Linked DNA regions of Homo sapiens. The protein of the gene in region 1 interacts with the protein of each later gene in a pairwise test. Each region holds a gene or a part of one and is shown in the gene's direction. Other genes may lie near its edges.

The links.
Region 2: the proteins of FATE1 (region 1) and SLC7A14 interact in binary tests that used the Homo sapiens proteins (3 or more experiments, as listed by UniProt).
Region 3: the proteins of FATE1 (region 1) and SYNDIG1 interact in binary tests that used the Homo sapiens proteins (3 or more experiments, as listed by UniProt).

The regions. Positions count from the first base shown.
Region 1 is NC_000023.11:151,719,019-151,723,709, forward strand, and holds the end of FATE1 (fetal and adult testis-expressed transcript protein), read left to right. Parts: intron 1-2,376; coding exon 2,377-2,483; intron 2,484-2,884; coding exon 2,885-2,963; intron 2,964-3,609; coding exon 3,610-3,741; 3' UTR 3,742-4,176; downstream 4,177-4,691. UniProt on the Homo sapiens protein: Involved in the regulation of endoplasmic reticulum (ER)-mitochondria coupling. Negatively regulates the ER-mitochondria distance and Ca(2+) transfer from ER to mitochondria possibly implicating it in the regulation of apoptosis.
Region 2 is NC_000003.12:170,583,071-170,590,800, reverse strand, and holds the start of SLC7A14 (solute carrier family 7 member 14), read left to right. Parts: upstream 1-4,725; 5' UTR 4,726-4,890; intron 4,891-7,730. UniProt on the Homo sapiens protein: Imports 4-aminobutanoate (GABA) into lysosomes. May act as a GABA sensor that regulates mTORC2-dependent INS signaling and gluconeogenesis. The transport mechanism and substrate selectivity remain to be elucidated.
Region 3 is NC_000020.11:24,542,603-24,549,633, forward strand, and holds part of SYNDIG1 (synapse differentiation-inducing gene protein 1), read left to right. Parts: intron 1-417; 5' UTR 418-495; coding exon 496-975; intron 976-3,266; coding exon of another isoform or gene 3,267-3,269; exon of another isoform or gene 3,270-6,027; intron 6,028-7,031. UniProt on the Homo sapiens protein: May regulate AMPA receptor content at nascent synapses, and have a role in postsynaptic development and maturation.

The DNA.
Region 1 (4,691 bases):
CTCCAGGAGGTCAGGCTCCTGCAAACCACTAATGTCCCTGAGACTAGGGGAGATATAATCTCTGGTTTAATTAAAGTTGACTACAAGGGCTAGAGGTAGACTGTTTGAAAATATAGACATTATATTGAATTTATAAATTAAATTTAGAAATTTAGAATTAGGAAATCTAATTTACTAATTCTATTTATTTATTAATTCATTCATTCCTTTATTTTTGAATAAAACAGTTAATGGAACTGCCTCTAGGAGAACCATAATATGCAAGGGTGAGAAAAGTTAATAATGCTATCCTGCTGACTTGGAAAAAAGCAGTGTGCCTTTAAAATTACATGGAAATTAAAATAACATTTTTTGAAATGATTAACAGAGAGAAGTTGGGACTTGGTGGGTTAACAACAAACTATGTTATCTGAAACAAACAAACAAATTCCAGCCATCAGCCATTCATCCTTATTTTTTGCCTTCAAATCTCTCAAAATTTTTTTTGTCCTTCTGATTCCAATTTATAGGAAAATCAAGCAATGGTCTGAAAATTTTTCTAAGAGACATCATTGATCAAATTATAGTCATGGGGTCTCCCTAATACCCATTATCTTTTTAATGCAATTTTTGAAGTATCTTAAGAAAATAAAATATTGTGACCATGAACTACGGTTCATAAAAAAGTTGCACCAATATCTGTGTGCTCCTCTTGAGAAAGATTAGTTATGCCTTATTGCAACAAACAGAGTGCAGTGGCAAAGTTCCTATGAAAATCCTTTACACAGAAATTGATCCACCTTCAGTTTGATGTTGTTACTTCGGAACAGAAGAGGGCTGCAGATATTTCTCAGGTGACAGGTGAGCCTTGGTTGTCTATTTTTTTGTAAGAATGAGGCAAATAGAAGAGCTAACCCAGTACTCTGTGCGCCTCAGTCAGGCCTCTCAAATGACAGGCTCTACTTCAGCAGGGTGAGCGGGTAAGGAACTGGCTGTCATGTGGGGCACCCTGAACCCTGCCAGAATGAAGACGGTTTTATTTTGTGTCACTTTCACCCCAGCTTTCTTATTCATTTGGTTCAGGTTTTGGCTTGGCGGTAAGTGCCTGGCTGCCAACCAGGAGTGAGAAGTGTGGATGACTGCTTCCTACATAGATCATTAGTTAAAGGCCCTGTTTTCCTCCCTCCCCTCCTTTCTTGTGATATGCCGCCATTGTCCTTGCAGGTCTAAGTCCTCTCTGGATGCTGCTGGCGGGGGCCTCCTTTGTCAGCTGAGTCCCATCTGCTTCCCATCCACAATGAGGCCTAGTTCCTCCATGGACACTTCCTAGATTCCAGAATTTTATTGAATTCTTTCATTAGCTGATGCCTCTTGTGTTGTCTTCTGTCTTATGGGTTTGTACTGTTTTACTGTCTTCACTGGCAATTAGTGGAGCCTTAACAGGAAGGAGTGTTAAATATGAGGGACATCGTAGTGTAATGGCTGAGAGTATAACCTCTGGACTGAAATGTCCTGGGTTCAAATTACTGCTCTGCTACTTCCTAGCTGTGTGACTTGGACAAGGTAATTAACCTCTCTGTGTTTCAGTTTCCCCTACTTTCAAAACGGGATGATAATGATACCGTTTCACAGGGCTGTGACGAGGAATCAGTCACTTAGTATTGGTAAGGGCTTAGAGGATGGCATGGTCCCTGGCATGTGGTGTGTGTTAAATAAGCAGCTTGTGAAACATTTCATCTTGAACTGGAAACCTAGAACTATGATTTGAGCCCAGGCAGGTCTGGCACCAAAAGCCACGCTCTTTTCCTCTATCCCCCACTGATGCTTCAAAGGCATCAGATGGCCCTGGCCCAAGGGCTCTGGGCCAGAGATGTACATGCTAGGGAGTTGTTGGCAGATGGATAAAAATGAAAGCCACAGGGATGGCTGGCTGAGCTTACCCAGAGGAGTTGCTGGTTTCCCAGTAGCCAGGGTTCTAGCCTTAGCCCTGACATTTACCACGCATCCTTGGAAAGTAAAGGCATCTCGCCAGGCCTCCATGGCCTGGGCTGCCAATCAAGGTTTTACGTTCTCCTTCAGTAGGTTGCTCAGCCTCTCAGCTAATACCTGCATGTGAAAGTTCTTGCAGAGGACAGGGACCCCTGTTACTGCTCCTCTTTTGCCACAGCCTGCCTGGATGACCAAGAGCTACCGAGGAGCATGGTGTGGGTGGGGTGGTGGCCAGCAGCCTGTGTGGGGTTCCCAAGCTTTCCTAGCGGCCTGAAGCTGCCAGCCCTTGATTCCAGAGACCAGGCACCATGTGATTCCCCATGGGGTGCACCATTGGCTCTGGGCAAACTGGAGAAGCCACTCATGTGGGGTTGGGCAGGCTACTTTACTGACCATTCCTTTCTTCAGGGGTCCCAGCTGCCAAAGCCCAGAATGCTGAGAGAATCAGGCCATGGGGATGCCCATCTCCAGGAGTACGCTGGCAATTTCCAAGGCATACGTTTCCATTATGATCGGTAAGAGCTGAGGGTCTGTGGGCCCTGGCTGCTCAGACAGGGCCCGGAGTGGGGCAGAGGGGCTGGTGAGCAGCCTGGCCAGGATGGAGTCATGAGGGCCTGGAATGCCTCCCTGTCAGAGACCATGAGTACCCTGGCTCCCTGCCCATTTGGGGCATCCCAGTGCTCTGCGGCCTAGCCGAGTTGGGCTGGACTGGGCTGGGCCAGGCTGGCTCAGGCTAGCTCAGGCTGACTCCCAGCCCTCAAGGCCCTAGGCCCTCTTTACCATGGAAGAGGACTGGAGGCTGATAGAGTCACTGTCCAAGAAGATCACGACCTTACCTGCTTGACCTCACTGCCTTCTTGTGCTCCCTGCCAGGGACCACCAGCAGCTTTGACCATCTGTCTTTTTTCTCTCCCAGCAACCCAGGGACAGATGCAGTGGCGCAGACTAGCCTGGAAGAGTTCAATGTACTGGAGATGGAAGTCATGAGAAGACAGGTGAGGAGGGACCCAATCGGTGGGTGCAAGCAGAATCACAGTGCCTTGGAATAGGCAGGGCTCGACAGCTGGGGTCCTGTAGTCCCTTACAGTCATCTTTCCCTTTAGCGCTGGAGGTGGGGCAGATTCCCTTCCTCTTCCTCCTCATCCCCATGGCTCTGACACCCCGCATAGATGTCCAGCCTCAAACTCACTGCTGTCCCTGAGATGCTGGTAGGGAATAGGGGCAGATAAAAGGTGGAGGAAGAGGGAACATACAAGGATAAGGGTTCTATGTCCAGAGAGAGAGTGATACCTAAGGGTCTGAGAGAGGGGTCGCCTTTGTTCAAACCAAACCCAGACCTTCTTAGGAGGAGATCCTTTCTTCCTTGGCTCCCCGGCGCAGCTGGAATGGGCTGGTCTCTTCCAGAGAAGGGAAGTGAACATAAGGGAGAAGGCAAAAGTGGGGCCTGCAGACGTAGCAGCCAGGTCTTTGGTCCCGCGGACCTGGCCCAGCCTCCTGCTTCTCACTAGGGGCGCTCCCCGCTCCACCGCCAAAGGGCAATCAAGCCCCTTCTTGCTCTAACTTTATGCTTTTCCCATGGCTGTGCTGTGGGCTTCTGGAGAAGAGCCTCGCTCAGCAGCCCTGCCTTTGACTCCTCTGCAGCTGTATGCAGTCAACCGGCGTCTGCGCGCCCTGGAGGAACAGGGCGCCACCTGGCGCCACAGGGAGACCCTGATCATCGCCGTGCTGGTGTCGGCCAGCATTGCCAACCTGTGGCTGTGGATGAACCAGTGATCGCCCCAGCGCGGCCTCCGTATTGGAGCCCTCCCTGCTTCCCCTTCTTTCTTTCCTCTTTCCCCAGGCCGCCACTGCCCTTGCCCCTTTCATCTCCCAGCAGCCCTCAGGAGCGTCAGGATCATTTTCAACTCTGGTTAGGCCTCCTACCTGGGGAGGCCAGGTCACTGCACTGGGAGGTCCTGGCTGCTGCGAAGCTGGAGGAGGACTGCGTGGGCTGAGATGCCACCCTTTGAAGGGTGAACAGCATGGCGGCATCTGGGCCCCACAGTAACACCTAGTGGCAACCTTGCCTTCCTGACCTCAGCGGCCCTTCTGTTCCATCCTCTGTGGGCAGGGGTGTGGCTTTGTTTTCCTCCCTCGTTTGCTTCCACCTCGTGCACAGCGCTCTGCACAGACAACACGCTCAATAAAAGTTCAGCCATAGCAGCAAAACCCTGTGGCTGAGGTTCCTGTGTCCAGCACTCACTGGGGGCAACAGTGGAGGTGGGGTGCGCTGGGAAACAACAGCTCCTCTTCACAGAGACCTTGTGGCTGGGACTGAGCCTCTGCCATTGCCCCAGGGGCCCTGGTTCCCTCCTCCCTTTCACCTCCCCCACCTCCCTGTCCCCAGCCCCAGCTTTGCAAAGTTCTTCCTGTTGGGCTCATGCAAACCAGTGCTTGTGGGGGTGTGGTTCTGGGAGCATGTCTGCGCTGTGTTGCAGGGAAGCAATCAGAGGAAATCTCCTGAAAGGGACCAGAAACCTCATTTGCGCAAGAGGAAATTGAATTCCAGAGAGAGGAAACATGTCCCTGGGTCATCCAGTGAGACAGGGCCTGGATGTGAGTTCTCTGGCGTGAGTTCTCCTGAGTCCTACGCTAGGGCTTGGCCTGCCTCCTGCAGACAGACTCACTGGAGATGAGGTCCTGCCTCAGCTCTGGAGGCTGAACGGGAGCTACACATACCCCTC
Region 2 (7,730 bases), on another chromosome or scaffold:
GCACCCAGACTTGGAGACAGATCTGTGAAATGTAAGTTTTAGCTCTGGCTCACCTACCAACTAAATAGTTCTAATACAAAGCTATTTCTGTATTGTTCATGGCTGTATCCCAAGTGTCTAGAATATGTTGAATAAATAATCAACACTTCCACATTCCACTTGTTAGAACAAGAAAACTAACCGAGGTTAGTCAAACCCTCTGAGTCCTAACTTTTCTCATCTTTAAAATAAGAGCTAGTATCTCCCAAAATATGGAAAATACAGCATCAAAGGCACTTGCTATTCAAAGATCCTTGCTACTCAAAGAGTAGTCCAAGAATCAGGAGCATCAGTGTCACTGGGATTGTGCTGGAAATGCGAGCTCTTGAGTCCCACCCCAGTCCTACTGAATCTAATTATGCATTTTTAACAAGGTTCCCTAGATGATTTCTATGCACGTTAGAGTTAGAGAAATATTGATTTAGATGGTACTAGGACTCAACATTAAATGGCCTGTAATCACCTAGTGGGAAGGTTATCCCTTTTCCACTTATCATTCAATCTTTTTGGTTACTTTATGGAGAAAGACAGTTTGATGTCAATGTCTTTAACACCTCACTAACAGCTGCTAATTTCCTTTTTAACAAGGAGAAAGCAAGCCTTCGGTTCCTGGGAAGGCAAAGGTATTTATCTTGACTATAATAGCATTGTTTTATTCTCATTGTGTTTGTTTAAATAGTTGCCTTGTATTTATGGCAACTGATATCAGTTTTCTATTTAAGGTAGTGATGAAAACCTCTTTAAAATAAATTAATTTAGGAAAGTGAATGTAATTAAAGGAAGGAAACACATAATAAATGGGAAGAACTGTTTGCTTTAACGATTCCTTCCATGTCAAGGAACTCCATTGGTTTGACAGTCCTGACCTCTGTCTTGACTCCATAGTTTCACTGATTAGGCAACTTTATTTACTCTGCATGGGGTAGGAGTGGGGAAAGTGCTATATTCTATTGTAAATTTAGGAATAAAATGAGCATGCTTAGGTCAGCATCCTCCTTCTTCCTTTTGAAATTTAAATACCTAGAGGATAATTTACTCATAGATAATTTGCTTATAAATTTCCAGTCCAATTGGTAGGATCCTAGCAGCAGGTTGTTTGTTTAATAGATCTTTATGGTGTGCCTATGGTAATGCTAGGTTCTGGTTGTGTGTCTTATTTTCTGTCTTCCTGCTGCTCAAAGGTACTGCTCCCTTTGGAAAGTTCCAGACGAGCCTCTAGCCAGGCTATCACAGTGTCTTTGGTTTCTCAGGTTTTGAATCTGCTCAGAGGCAAGAGTCAGGGGCACTGATGAGCTTGGGGTCCTTCTAGAAGAAAGCATCAGGTACTCATTTTCATGAATCATGAGACAAAAATGGAGAATTGTTTTTAAGGCATCTGGCCAATTCCCTCATGGCTTAACCACCATCCATTCAAGCAGGTCAGTCATGAGGGATTTTAGTCGTTACCCTTTTAATGACCCTATTTTGGCAAAAGGCCCTAGATAAGAGTGCTCTGCTGCTTCCCTGGAGAGTAATCGCTTTTGTCTCTGAGCCCCACATTTGCTTATGTTAGTTCTCTATCACTTAAGTGGTGCCCCTTTACTCTTCATTATATTGTTCTGTTGTATTTCCATCATGATACTTATCTCCACTGCTTTGTTTACTTGTTTGTGGTCTGACCCCCTGCTCTAGACTGTAAGCTCAAGGAGAGCAGAACCATTTCTGTATTGTTCATGGCTGTATCCTAAGTGTCTAGAATATGTTGAATACATGAATCAACACTTCCACATTTCAACTGTAGGAACAAGAAAACAAGGATGTGTACTTTAAAGATCTAGTTAGTAGTCACTTTGTAAGATCATTGTTGAACTCTGGAACTTCACCAATTGTTGCGGCTGTGCATGGCTCTAAATAATTAAATTTTTGTCTGCTGCATTTATATTTCTTTGTTCATTAATGCTCTACTTACAGCTGGAAAGTGTTTGCAGTGGCTTATGATAAAGTCAACAATCATCATGCAAAAGACAAGAGCTTATAAGTAAGGGAGGACCCAAGGGAAACCTTTACAAGAAATCATTGCTAAGGTATAACTTTCTACTGCAATCTATGCAAGATCGGTTCTCTAAGTTTCCTTTTCTGCTCTTCACTGGGTAAAGTTGCCTTGGACATTTAAAACTGCTTTGAAAAAATATATATTCAGAGTCCTTGAGCAATTTCTGGTGAAACTGTTCAAAATTTTCTGAAATTTATGCTTGTCCAGGTAACTGCTCATAAAGGCATCATGGCCAAATTAAATGATTTCATGCTTATTTTTCCCTTTCTCATGTTTCTTGATGTCAGTGGAGAGGTAGGCAGGAGTCAGAAGCAGCATTTTACCTAGCCCAGACAATTTTTTCAGTGGTATATATAGAAGCATGGTTGACACTTTCTGGTCTTTTAGTCTCCCTAAATACAAAGAGGTCCAGATTAGCAATTTCCAAAGAATATTAAGGGGAAGTACACCAGGAGATAGGATTGGAATCTGCTTAAGGTTGGAGGGTTCCAGGAGTTCCTGGTTTGTGTGAGGATTTCATTGAGTTTATTGGCAGTGGACTAGAAACACATATCATCATTCAAGCTGCTGATGAATGTCTAGAGTTTGTTCCTAGAATCCAAATTTTTTTTCTTTGAAATCGAAGCCATTTTGAATTACCAACCCAAGTCAATTTTACCTAGCAAAGGCAGAAAAGTCTAAACCCTGCTGTCTTGAAATATAGGCACAAACTTTTCTCAGATAGTAAATATTCATAACTATTGTGATTGTGGCTGGTGTTCCAGAAATAAAAGGCCAGGGAAATATGGAGATTTAAATCAGAAATTTATCCAGAAAAAGGTGAAACAAAGAATGCAGTTCTCCAATAATCACATCCCCTGAGCTACAGGCATACATGCAGACTTAGAGCAACACACCAACATTTTAGTAGCTGCATATTCCATGACAAATCCCATCTTCCCATCTTATCACCCTCATAATTCATTTGGACTAGAATAGACTCAGGGTTTTCTTCAGCCCATAGTATTCATACTCTTTACCTTTTACAGTGACTTCTCATGTGCTATCCCATCTAAACATCACAACCATCTTATATAGAAGGCAGGTAGACATTCCTTTCCCATTCTGAAGATGAGAGTCTGACAATTTAAGTGATTTGTGAAAAATCATATGATAAGTAGCTGGCAGAACCTGCACTGAGATTCCAAATTTCTGATTTTTTAACTTTGCACTTTTCCTACAATGTCTCACAGCTTCTTGGTGATCCCAGGAGGTCTAACATATCCTGCAGAACTACTCAAAGCTTAAAATATGGGGATATTGTCAGGCTTAGATGCTCATCGAAGGCAGTAACAAGCTTGAGGTAGGTGGACTAACCAAGACTGTCCTGGCAATGATCAAGCAACTTTCTGGGAAGAGCCCAGGGCAGACCCACAAAGTAGAGCTAGATTTGAACTGCTCCACCCTAGAGGAGTATCAGTCAGCCAGTATTCTCCCCAAACACAAGCCCAGTGAATTCATTTCCAAGGATAGGAGAGTTACATTTTGTTGCCTCCCATGTGTTTTGAGGGCTTGGGCCAAAGTGCAAGAATTTATGTAGATAACTTTCATCCAAATCAGTCTACTCAATGCTTGTTAAATAATTCATTCGGTGATGTGGCCAAGCATGCCTGGGTTGGTCCCATCTAGTCCCAATCCTTTTGGGACATAACCTGGCTCTAGGACACTCATCTTAAAGGAGCTAATACAAAACAGAAACCTTATCTCACTCTTGTCTCCGTTTAGACTGGTACTTGTCTAGCCTGACCTCACAGATGCCTCCTTCCATGTTTAAAAGATGCTTTCACTGTATTAGCACACATCACATCCTTCTTGCCTTGTGAAATTTATTTTAACAAAGGTGGGGGAAAAAGAACTCTCCTTTATTGAGCTCCAAATACCTGTCCAACTCTAGGCTAGGCAATTCTAAGAACATGATGATTTCTCAATCTCATGACAATACTGCAAGGTGGTTATTTCACAGACGAGAGAAGAAAAGCTAGAAAGTTAAATGCTCCAAGGTCATACAGATTGGAATCCTAATGGCTCTTCAAATCTCAAGTCCATGATCTTTGCACCCATAAGATGTTGTGAACCCAACGATAAACTTAAGCTTTGAAGACAGAGGTGGGTCTTGTCTTCTTTAGGAGGAGAGGAGAAATCAACCTCTCTCATTTTTTCTTTCCTGTAGGGCTCAGGGATGTGGAAGTTTAAGAGCAACGAAGGCTCCGCAGAGGATGAGGGAAGCTTCCAGAGGGCAGGAAGGAGGTCTGGACAGCCCAGTCTAGCAGGGGCAGAGCTGCGGCAGATGCCTTCCCAACGCACAGACATTGCAGAGTCCTGCTGGTCCCTGCTTTCCCAGGGCAAAGAACTGCCCCCATCCACGGCCCCCTCAACCTCCCTGCAGCCTGACATAAGACACTGGAGGTCACAACTGGAGGCTCAGAAGGCCAGCGAGGAGTTGTGAGCGGCAGACAGAGGGGAAGGCAGGGGGGCCAGGTGGGAGGTGGTCTGGTGCCAGGCTTGGGCCCAGTATGTAAGGGGTTGGGCAGGCCATGTGACTCCAAGGAGGCGGAGACAGGCGAGCTGGAGGGAGGACGAGCAGGCACGGGGAGGGGTTCGGGGGGTGGGGGCCCAATCTGAATAATTGAGGAGCTGTTCAGCAGCAGCGGCTGCCTCCTGCCTTCCTTTGCCGCCACCACCACTTCCCATCCCAGCTAGAGAGACAGCTCCGCGCAGTAAGTGCGGACTGCCAGCCACCAGCCTTGGCAGCCAGCTCGTCGCCTCCAGCCCCGACCCCGGTAAGTGAACGGCCCCCTTCGCTGCCGTTTGTCCCCCTCCGCGCCCCCCGCGCCCCAGCGGGACCCCTGCAACTGGGATGGCCGCCTCTCCCGGAATGACCCAGGGAGCCGGAGTCACCGGGAGCGGGGGACCAGGAATATGGCGCGGAGGCCCAGGGCGCCCTCCGAGAAGGGGTTCCCTGGAAGAACCGAGGAGGTGGGTCGGGCTCTTTCCTGCTCTGGCCCGGAATGAGGCCCCGACTGCCCGCGGTCTGGGGGCACCGGGCTCTGACTCGCGGGAGCTGCCGGGCGGGGCGGGGGCCAGCGCGGCTCCGGCGCCGCTAGAGCGGGAGGCAGAAGGGGAGCCGCGAGCGGAATGCGGGCAGCCTAGGTCTCGGCAGACGCCGGGCCCGTCCTGTCCCCCGCCTTGGCGCGCACCCCGCACGGGCAGCTCCGTTCTCCGCCTCGGACCGAGACCATGAAACGGAGACGCTTTTCCGGCCGCAGACTCCGGGGAGGTCGGGAGCAACGTCTGCCCTTTTACCTGGGAGCAAACTCCTCAAAGGGACTCCCGCCGAGCCCAGCACCCCGACCAGGATGGTGGCGCCCCGAGGGGCGTCTGTCCCCGGAGAGTGGTGACTCTCCCGGGAGCGGCGAAGAGGACGTGACGGGAGCGGTGTCCAGGGAAGCTCCCTGCCCAGAGCCGGCAGCCCCAGCAAGGGGAGCTCTCCTGCACTGCTTCAACCCTCAGTCTCCTCTCTTCTCCCATTCCAAAGCACATCAGCTCCCCTCTAATCCAAGAGGGCCAGGTTAGGGCTGCGTGGCCACGCGGGATGCAGCCCCCACCCTCCTTCTCTCTCCTGTGTCACCCTGCCCCCTCCCCAAATGAGTATTTTATATTGCGATTGAAGAGTGAGCAAAGCAAAGGCGAGAAGAGATGCAGGAAGGCTAGAGCAGCGGGGCTCGCTCCTGTTCTGGCACTCCTCATCCCCCCACCTGTGTGAAGCTCGTTTCCTTGAGATTTTGAGCGGAGACACTCAAAGGAACTGGCTCTGGCGAAGGGATCCCCGCCTGAGTGTCGGTGAACGTCACTGGCCCGAATTGCCCAAGGGCCGCAGGATGTCACCCTGCCTCCCCCTAGGTATAGGGTCTAGGAGAGCGCTGGGGGCAAGGTAGCTCTCCTCCTCCGACTGAGTGCAGGGAATGGCGCTGTCCGCGGTGCTGAAAGTTCTCAGAGGCTGGGTGCTAATACCGCCAGGGCCCACATTCCCTGCGAGCAGAAACTGCGTTAGAACCCTAAAGGGTTCTAAGCAAGCGACCTAGAGAAACAGGAGAAGAAGGGGCTTTGCCTTTCCCGGTTTTCTGCTTCCCCAGGACTCCGCTTGGGAAAAGGTTCCCGGCTTTCCTGAGTGGAAGAGCAGGAAGCGGGTGTCACTTCAGGATCCAGTTTTGCTAACTTCGGGAGCTTCCTCGTTCTACTTCCTATACCTGAGCAGTGAGACTTCCTGTCGGTAAAGTGTTGAAAGGCAGTTAGGGATGCTGTTTTGATAATAAACATTTCTGTGGCTTTCAGGAATCAGAGAATTGTTAGGCTACACAAAGGAGGGGCTTCATGGTTGTAGCTTTTTCCTCTTCTTAGAACCCTTCTTTCCCCACTGCATGTTATTTACATGCTCTAGATAAAGATCGCTAAGCAGCCCTGTATGTTTGTTTCTTTAGCTAGTCTTTTATATTATGGGCAAGATGGGGAAAGGATTGAGCCAATTTGGGGAGGCCTATTTGTACTGAACACCTCTATCTGCTGGGTAATAATATTTCATTTAAACTTCACAATAGCTGCCAACCAAAAGTATCACACAGAGAAGGAAACAGAAACTTGATTCCAGAGATTGGATTCAAAATCAGATCTATTTAACTCAAAGTCCAAGCCATTTTCATGCCTTCATTTTGGTATTTGGCTCTGAATAGCTGTTATTGGAGATTATAGCAGGAGAATGACAAAGGAGGGAGGCCTGCTCTTCTCTTTCACACACTCTCCTCTCTTCCAACCCTTTTCTCTTTAATCCGTTCACCCACTCACTGTCATGCACTCCCACCCTCCCAACTGCTTTTGCATGCTGCTTGAGATACCACTGTTCACACAACTTCAGCTCCAATATTATGGAAACAAGTTAGAGAACTAAACCAGCAGCCTTTTCTAAAAGAGTAGCAGGGCTTCAGGAAGTCTGGAGAACTAGAGTCCACATGTACTTTCATATTTAGAATTATACTGTTGAATTTTAGAACTAGAATAGCTTTGAATATCATTTAGCACCATCGTTTTACAAGAAAGAAAACTTGGAAACCAAAAGATGGTCATTAGTCTAAGTCACATGATTGAAAAATTAGAACCCAGTTAACTTGATTCCAGGCCCAGGGCCTTTCCCACTATTTCATGGTGTCTGAAATACTCTTCCATACTGCTTTCTTTGATTATCTTTGACTAAACGTCAGCATCAGTGAACTAAATTAAACAACATGCCAAAAATACAAACACTTAACATACAAGCATTCCTCTTACCTTTCTTCCAACTCCTTTGTCTTCCAGCTCTTTCCCCTCTGGTCCTACTATTCCAGTGTTGTCTAACCCAACATACCTGGGAGATATGACCCACCTTCCTCAGTAACAGTTTTCTCTGAAGCAGCAATTCACAAATGGGAATGGTAGTGTGTCATTTCTTTACTTGCCCTATCTTGTCTATATCTCCTCTTCTATGACCTATTCCCCAAAAAATAATTTTCCCAAAATTGGTTACCCTAAGCAACTGCCCATGTTCTCATAGGGACTGGGAAAAGGCCCTAATAAGACCTAAGGATTTTTA
Region 3 (7,031 bases), on another chromosome or scaffold:
CTTGAATGAACAGCCATGTACCTGGGAAGAGCTAATCGCCTTTACAGATTTGCAGTTCTGTTTTCCTATGGACTTGTCAGATGCTAATGCGATTGGGTTTACCTGTGGGTTTCAGGATGTCTGCTAGCAATCAAAGGTTCCTCTAGGCTGCAAGGGAGCCAATTCCTGCAGTCTCCTTCATTTGGAAGCAGAGACTTTATAGAGATTCAGGTAATCAATTTCTGCTAACTCTGGCTAGCCGCCCCCACAGACCCTTTTTAACATTCACTGAATAGGTAGGACTGCATTTTATCTAACTCTCACAGTTACTATGCGTTTATCAGCTGGCTGGTACAGTCTGAAACAATGTGGGTCTGGGTGATTAGCTTGTTTTCAAGTGTGATTCTCTTGTCTCATCTCTGTTTTCTCCTCCTCCAGGAGAAATGGCTTCCCTGAGGCAAGTGTAACCTACATTCCCAGCCCACCAGCCTGACGCCCAGCCAGGGAGAGAGTACCATGGATGGCATCATTGAACAGAAGAGCATGCTGGTGCACAGTAAAATCAGTGATGCTGGCAAGAGGAATGGTTTAATTAACACCAGAAACTTGATGGCCGAGAGCAGAGATGGTCTGGTGTCTGTTTACCCAGCGCCCCAGTACCAGAGCCACCGGGTGGGGGCCAGCACAGTGCCGGCCAGCCTGGACAGCAGCAGGAGTGAGCCGATGCAGCAGCTGCTGGACCCCAACACCCTGCAGCAGTCAGTGGAGTCCCGCTACCGGCCCAACATCATCCTCTATTCAGAGGGCGTGCTGCGCTCCTGGGGGGACGGTGTGGCCGCCGACTGCTGCGAGACCACCTTCATCGAGGACCGGTCGCCCACCAAAGACAGCCTCGAGTACCCGGATGGGAAGTTCATTGACCTCTCAGCTGATGACATAAAAATCCACACCCTGTCCTACGATGTGGAGGAGGAGGAGGAGTTCCAGGAGCTGGAGGTCACAGGATGTGTTTGTCAGAGGCCCTCTAAGAATGTGTGATGGGGATTCTAGGGAGGGCAGGAGCCATGAATGCCTGGCAAAAGTTAGGGAATGAAACTAGTGTGCAAAAATGCAGAAACCAAAGGCAGTCTTGGTGCCCTTCACTCTTGAGTGCTTATGGAAGATAGAAGGAGAGGAAAGACTTAGATTAACAGAAACCCAGGGGCGCTTCACCGGTGATTCTGGTATGAGATGACCCCAGGTAATGGCTGCAGATGGCAGTGCTGGTGGGTTCATCGGTTTTCCCTGCTCTCCCGCATCCCATGAGACAGAGAGGTCATTGACAAGATGAGAGAGGGACACCTGATCCTAGAGCCACATGAGGCTGGAAATATACTTGACAGGGGACACTTTGGGAGGTGCTTCTACTGTCACCTGTGGTTCCTTGACTTTGCATTCCACAGTTACTACTGAGAGATTGTTGATAGAGCTGAACCGTGCTGGAAGAAAGTGTAGGTACTGATAGCCTGAAGGGAAGATAAGTTGACTTCTTAGATGACTCGCTTCTTTAATGGACTGGAGGGCAGGTGACAGCATTTGAATTACATGCACAGAGATGTACACACTGCACGTTGGATATAGTGTGGTAGGCACAGTGGTTGCTGAGTGTGTGGCACATTGTCCCCCCAGGACAGCACCGGTGAGAGGGTGAGAGCAGCTGCTGCAGGCCATGGACTAGCGGTTTGCTGCCCATGCCTCCCAAGTCATTCCACTGCAGTGAGGCCAGGGGTGTTTTCCCAGGACGCGATGTCAGGGAAACACGTGCCAGGCTTTCCGTCAGTTTGGTGGGGAAGGAAACCGCCGAGCAGGTCCAACCTTCAGAGGCAGTGTGTGGCCAAAAGGGGAAGGGATGTCTGTTTTTCACTAAGGTAGGCGAGAACATTTTTGTAGGTGGAGAGGAAATGTTCAGAATGGAAAATTCAGGATCGTGGCCAGCAGCTGGGGAGTGGTCTTGGGGAGGCAGGAGCTGAACTCCAAGCATGTATGTGTGAGAGCTGGCCTCTCAGAAGAAGTCCACATGCTGGCCTGGGAGAGAAGAGAAGGGTGGGGTAAGGGAAAGTTTGAAGGGCTCTGGGTTGAAGAGGAAGAAAAGGAGGGGTTCGTGTTGGCTGAGCATCAGCACAGCCAGAGAAGCTCCTGGGGTGTGAGGAGATTGCAGACAGTCTAGAGCAATGAACTGGGGGAAGTGCCCATTCTAGAAAAGACTCCTGGAGAAACTGCCCAGCTGCAGTATGAGTTTGTGTGAAGATCTGGTCAGACCCAGGGCTCTGTGACTTTCTGCAGCCATGTGGGACCATCTTTAGCAGGTGAGGCTCCCTTGGCAAGGTGCACTCTGCCTGGAAGGTGGAGGAGGCAGGAGAAAGCAATAGGGAGGAAGTTTGGAGCAGAATCAGACCCACAACCATGGGACCCCACACTTGATAGAAAGGCCGGAGAAATTGCAAGGGAATGACAGGCCAAGGAGACCAGAGGATCAGGATTGGAGAGACCCCATTGAGAACCAGGAGCTGAGAGATCCAGCGTTAGTCAGGAGGGAGGATTAGAAATGGAGAGGGAAACTTTGGTGCAACTCCAGCCGGTGGAGCCCGGGAAGCCCACTGGCAGGGAGTGGAGAGTCGTGGCATGGAAGAGGACCAAGACGTGATGCCTGGGCATCTGCGCAGGCCCCAATGCCCTCTGGTGACACCTGTGAAGGGAGGGCACTCACGCTGCAGCTGTGGAAAGTTGGGAGCATGCTTGGCTTCTGTTCAGAAGCCTCTGCCCTGTCTACTAAGTTTTCCAAGATCTGAGGGCTTTGCTGACAGCAAAGCGTAAATGCTGCCCGACTCGCATGGAGTGGAATTAGAGAGGCAGATGCACGAAAATGCAGCCCCAGGAGTTATGGGAATGGAATACCCCATCAGCTCTGAAGAGGGTCTGGGGCCCTGAGCTCAATGCGGGGTTCAGAAGTCATCACACAGGCAGGAGCCCTCCCCCGGCTGAGTCTTGAGGATGAGTAAGAGGAGGCTTGAGGGGAGCTTAAATAAAAGCTAGGAATGGGTGGGGGCAGACACAGACTTGTCTGTCTTAGTAGGTCCAAGGCTCTGACAAGTAGTATAGACTTCTGGGGAGGTAACCTTTCCCACCCAGTCCTGCTTCTCTGATCTAGCAGCAGAAGTGGAAGCCCACCAGAAACAATTCTTTTAATAATACAGCAATAAGAATCTTTAGTCATAATAACGGTGCCTACTCTGTATTAATATTTCTAGTGACTTTTGAATATAACGTAAGATGGAGCATGTTGGCATTTATACTAAAGTAACATCGATGAAACAGCAAGTTGTTTACTTAGGCACTTTAGTGAGACTTTCTGGTCGGCTTCCAAGGAGCTCACCTGGACCAAGAAATGGCCCCTTCCACAGGCTCTGAGCAGAAGGAATGGAGACACATTATGGCTGCTGCTGCTTCTACATGCGGCTCAGGATGCCAAGGAGGATTTCAGAGCCTCACCACGGTGGTTAACTTCGTCCTTTTTCTCTGAAAACAAAGATTTTCTCAGAAACATTCTTACAGTATAGCTATGGTGCTTTTCATTCCCTTCTTCGGTAATTAACAAAATACTAATGACTGGTTAGAAGTGTCATTGAACATGCAGTAGCTGTTCTTTGGTTTACTGTTTTCTCCATTCCATTAAATAATAAAGGGTCATGTATTGGTTAGCATTTGCTGCATAACAAATCACCCCCAAAACACAGTGCCTTAACAACTCTTTCTTCAGCTTATGATTTCTGAGGGTCGGCAATTGAGCTGGGCTCAGCTGGGTGATTGTTCTGCTGGTCTCACCTGGGCTCACTCACTTGTCCATAGCTAGCTGTGATAGGCTGGGAAGCCAGCCTCTGGTGGGCTGTTGGCTGCAGTGACAGAGGTAACTGCATCACCCAGCTGTCACCCATCCTGTCCCAGGCTTCATTTTGCGGCAGCCAGAGAGGTGGGGCCCACTTTGTGAGGGCTTGTCAAGTCTTTGCCTGTGTCCTGCATGTTACTATCTCATTGACCAGAGCAGGTCCCACAGCCAAGCTCAGTCAGTGTGGGAGAGACTGCTTAGGGTCACAATATAGGGAAGTGATAACAAATTGGGTGCCAGTACTGCAACCACAGAGCCAAAAACCATAGACTTTTGGCATCATTTTTTTTTTCAGATGGTCTAACTGAACAGAATGACAACTACTGAAACAAAAGAACAGTGAATACTGATCTGAGCTCTTTCCAGAAGGCAGTTCTACTCAGCCAAAAAAGAAAAAAAAATGTGATTTTTAACTTCTTTGAGTATTGTATAGCTTCACTTGGTTTATAGCAAATGGATACTGTTTCCCAAATAATGCCGTTTTCAAAAAGCCATTGCCCTGGTTCAGAATGGGGCCCCCTCATTGCCCTTGTTCAGAGGGGGCCACCTCATTGCCCTTGTTCAGGGCCCCTCCCATTGCCCTGGTTCAGAGTGGGGCCTTCTCATTGTCCTGGGTCAGAGCAGGGCCCCCTCATTGCCCTGGTTCAGAGCAGGGCCCCTCGTTTCCCTGGTTCTGAGCGGGGCTCCCTTGCTGGAGCTCCTGGGCACTGGGTGGCTGGCTGTGTTTTCCCCAATCACTTTCCCAAGACAGGTGCATCCCTGGCATTTATGAAGGAGCCTCTCCAGGTCCGAAGAGGTCGGCCTGTCTGACATATGTTTGCAAGGGCATGTGGAGCGTTCAGTTTGCCTTCGAGGTTGTGGTAGTAACAAGAACAGGTTCTATGGCTAACTTTGAGAATATTTATGGGAGGTTCTCAACTATTCGGCAAGTGTTTATGATCTGTCCTGCTCCACCTTAAGTCGCCAAGTAGAGCATGGCTTGACATTAGACAGGTAGATGTAGGGGACCTCTGGGGCTTTGCGGGAGTGCAGAGGTGCCATGCCGCTCATTATCTAGTGCCACTGCGCTCAGGGTGACAAGACAGGCATCCTGTGGGGGTGCCCTCAGGGCATCCTGGGTAGTGATAATTGGGCCTGATGTCCGACAGCCCAGGCCTCTTCCCAGGTATGTGAACACTGCTTCATCCACTTCCCAGCCAGTAGCTAAAAACTGCTGTCTCTGGGAATACCAGCAGTGGGAAGCCACTTCTCCTTTCACACAAATAAACTCAGAGAGACTTCAGGGACAAGTAATGAAGTAGGTCTACAAAATATACAATTTGAGTTTACAGCCATGAAATGAAGTGGATGGAGTCCAGGTGCAGAGGCCTGACCACCCTCCTGCCCTTAGAGATGGTGACCAGATGTTGAATGGCACTTACCTGTGGCAATGCAAAACCTCTCAGACCTGAAGTACATGACGGTCACCACCTAGAAGCGGTGCCCATGGGGGCTGAGCCTTTTCTTCACTGAAGGAAGAAGGGGGAAGGGAACGCTCATCGATGGAGCACCTTTTCTGCCACGCCCTCCAAGTGCACTTGGCCATCGAATCCTCGAAGCGCTTGGGGATGGGTCATGGTGCTGTCCTCATCCTACACGTGGAGAGACAGAAACTTGGGGTGTTTCCAAGATCACACACGTGGCTCTGCTGTCAGCCCTTGGATCTGAGACAGATCTCCTGACTTTAGACTCTGTCTCCTCATGATGATGCTGTTCTTTCTACATTAGGGGGAAAAATGTGTTCCAGTAAACTTCTGTTTCAGCATTATGCCAGAGTCCAAGGACAAAGCAGGAAGAGACGGCACCAGGACTTCACTTCTGTGAACTCTCCGCCAAGCTTTCCAAGGCCTTCCAGTCTGTCTTCCCATGTAAAAACTTGAAAGCTGTTGGAGGACACAGAATTCTATAACTGCAATAGAGCACTTTACATATACCTCAGTCATAAGTATGGAAAGAGGGGCGAGGACTCAACACACATGTGAAGAAAACCCAAAAGCATGAATGAGACAGAACAACAACAAATAGAACAGTTGACCCAGAGGAAAGAGAAAGAGTTCAGAAAATAATAAACAGCATTTTGAAAATTATTTTTAGTATCTCCAGAGAGATTTGAGGTGCTGCTGATTTGGGTGGAAGGAAATTTGGGGGTTTTGTTTTGCTCATTTGTTTGTTTACCTCATAGCACTGGCCAGAACCTCAAATACATTGTTTAGTGTGAGTGAACGAACATCCTTGCCTTGCTCCTGATCTTAGGGGGAGCTTTTAGCTTTCATGATGAAAGGTGATGTTTTTGTAGTTCTTTGTAGACACTCATAATCAGGTATAGGAAGTTCCCTTTGTCACTACTTTGTTGAAGAGGTTTTTTATTTTATTTTTTATTTAATTTTATTTTTTAATAGACAAATAAATGGGATATTCATATTCATGGGGTATATAGTGATGTTTTGATACATGTAACATATGGTGATCAGATCAGGGTAATTAGCATATTCATTATCTCAAACTTTGATCATTGCTTTGTGTTGGGAGCATTCAATAACCTCCTCTTAGCTATTTGAAACTGCATAATATATTATTTTTCAACTGTTTTCATGCTACAGTGCTGTAGAACACTGGAAGTTATTCATATCTAGCTGTAATTTTGTATGTTTTAATACATCTCTTCCTATCTCTCCCTTCCTCCTACTCTGCCCACTCTCTACTATTCTTCCTTCTACTTTTACTTCTATAAAATTAACTCCTTTTAGCTTCCACGAGTGGAACATGCAATGCTTAACTTTCCCTCCTGACTTATTTCATTTAACATAATGTCCTCCAGTTTCATCCATATTTGCTGCAAATGACATAATTTCATTATTTTTTTATGGCTGAATAGTATCCTGTGGTGTTGAAATGGGAGAGTTCCCTGATTCCCCTTGCAGGACGTGGGGTGGGTGTGGTTCACCTGTTCTGTTGCTGCTCAAACCCCTTGCAGGACTGGAGCATGCAGAAGGGCAGGTGCAGAGGCTGGGGCGAGTGCTTTATGCTCTGGCCTTGCAGTAGTGTCTAGGGGTGGGTGACTGCAACCCCACTGTTACAAAGCTCTTTCAGC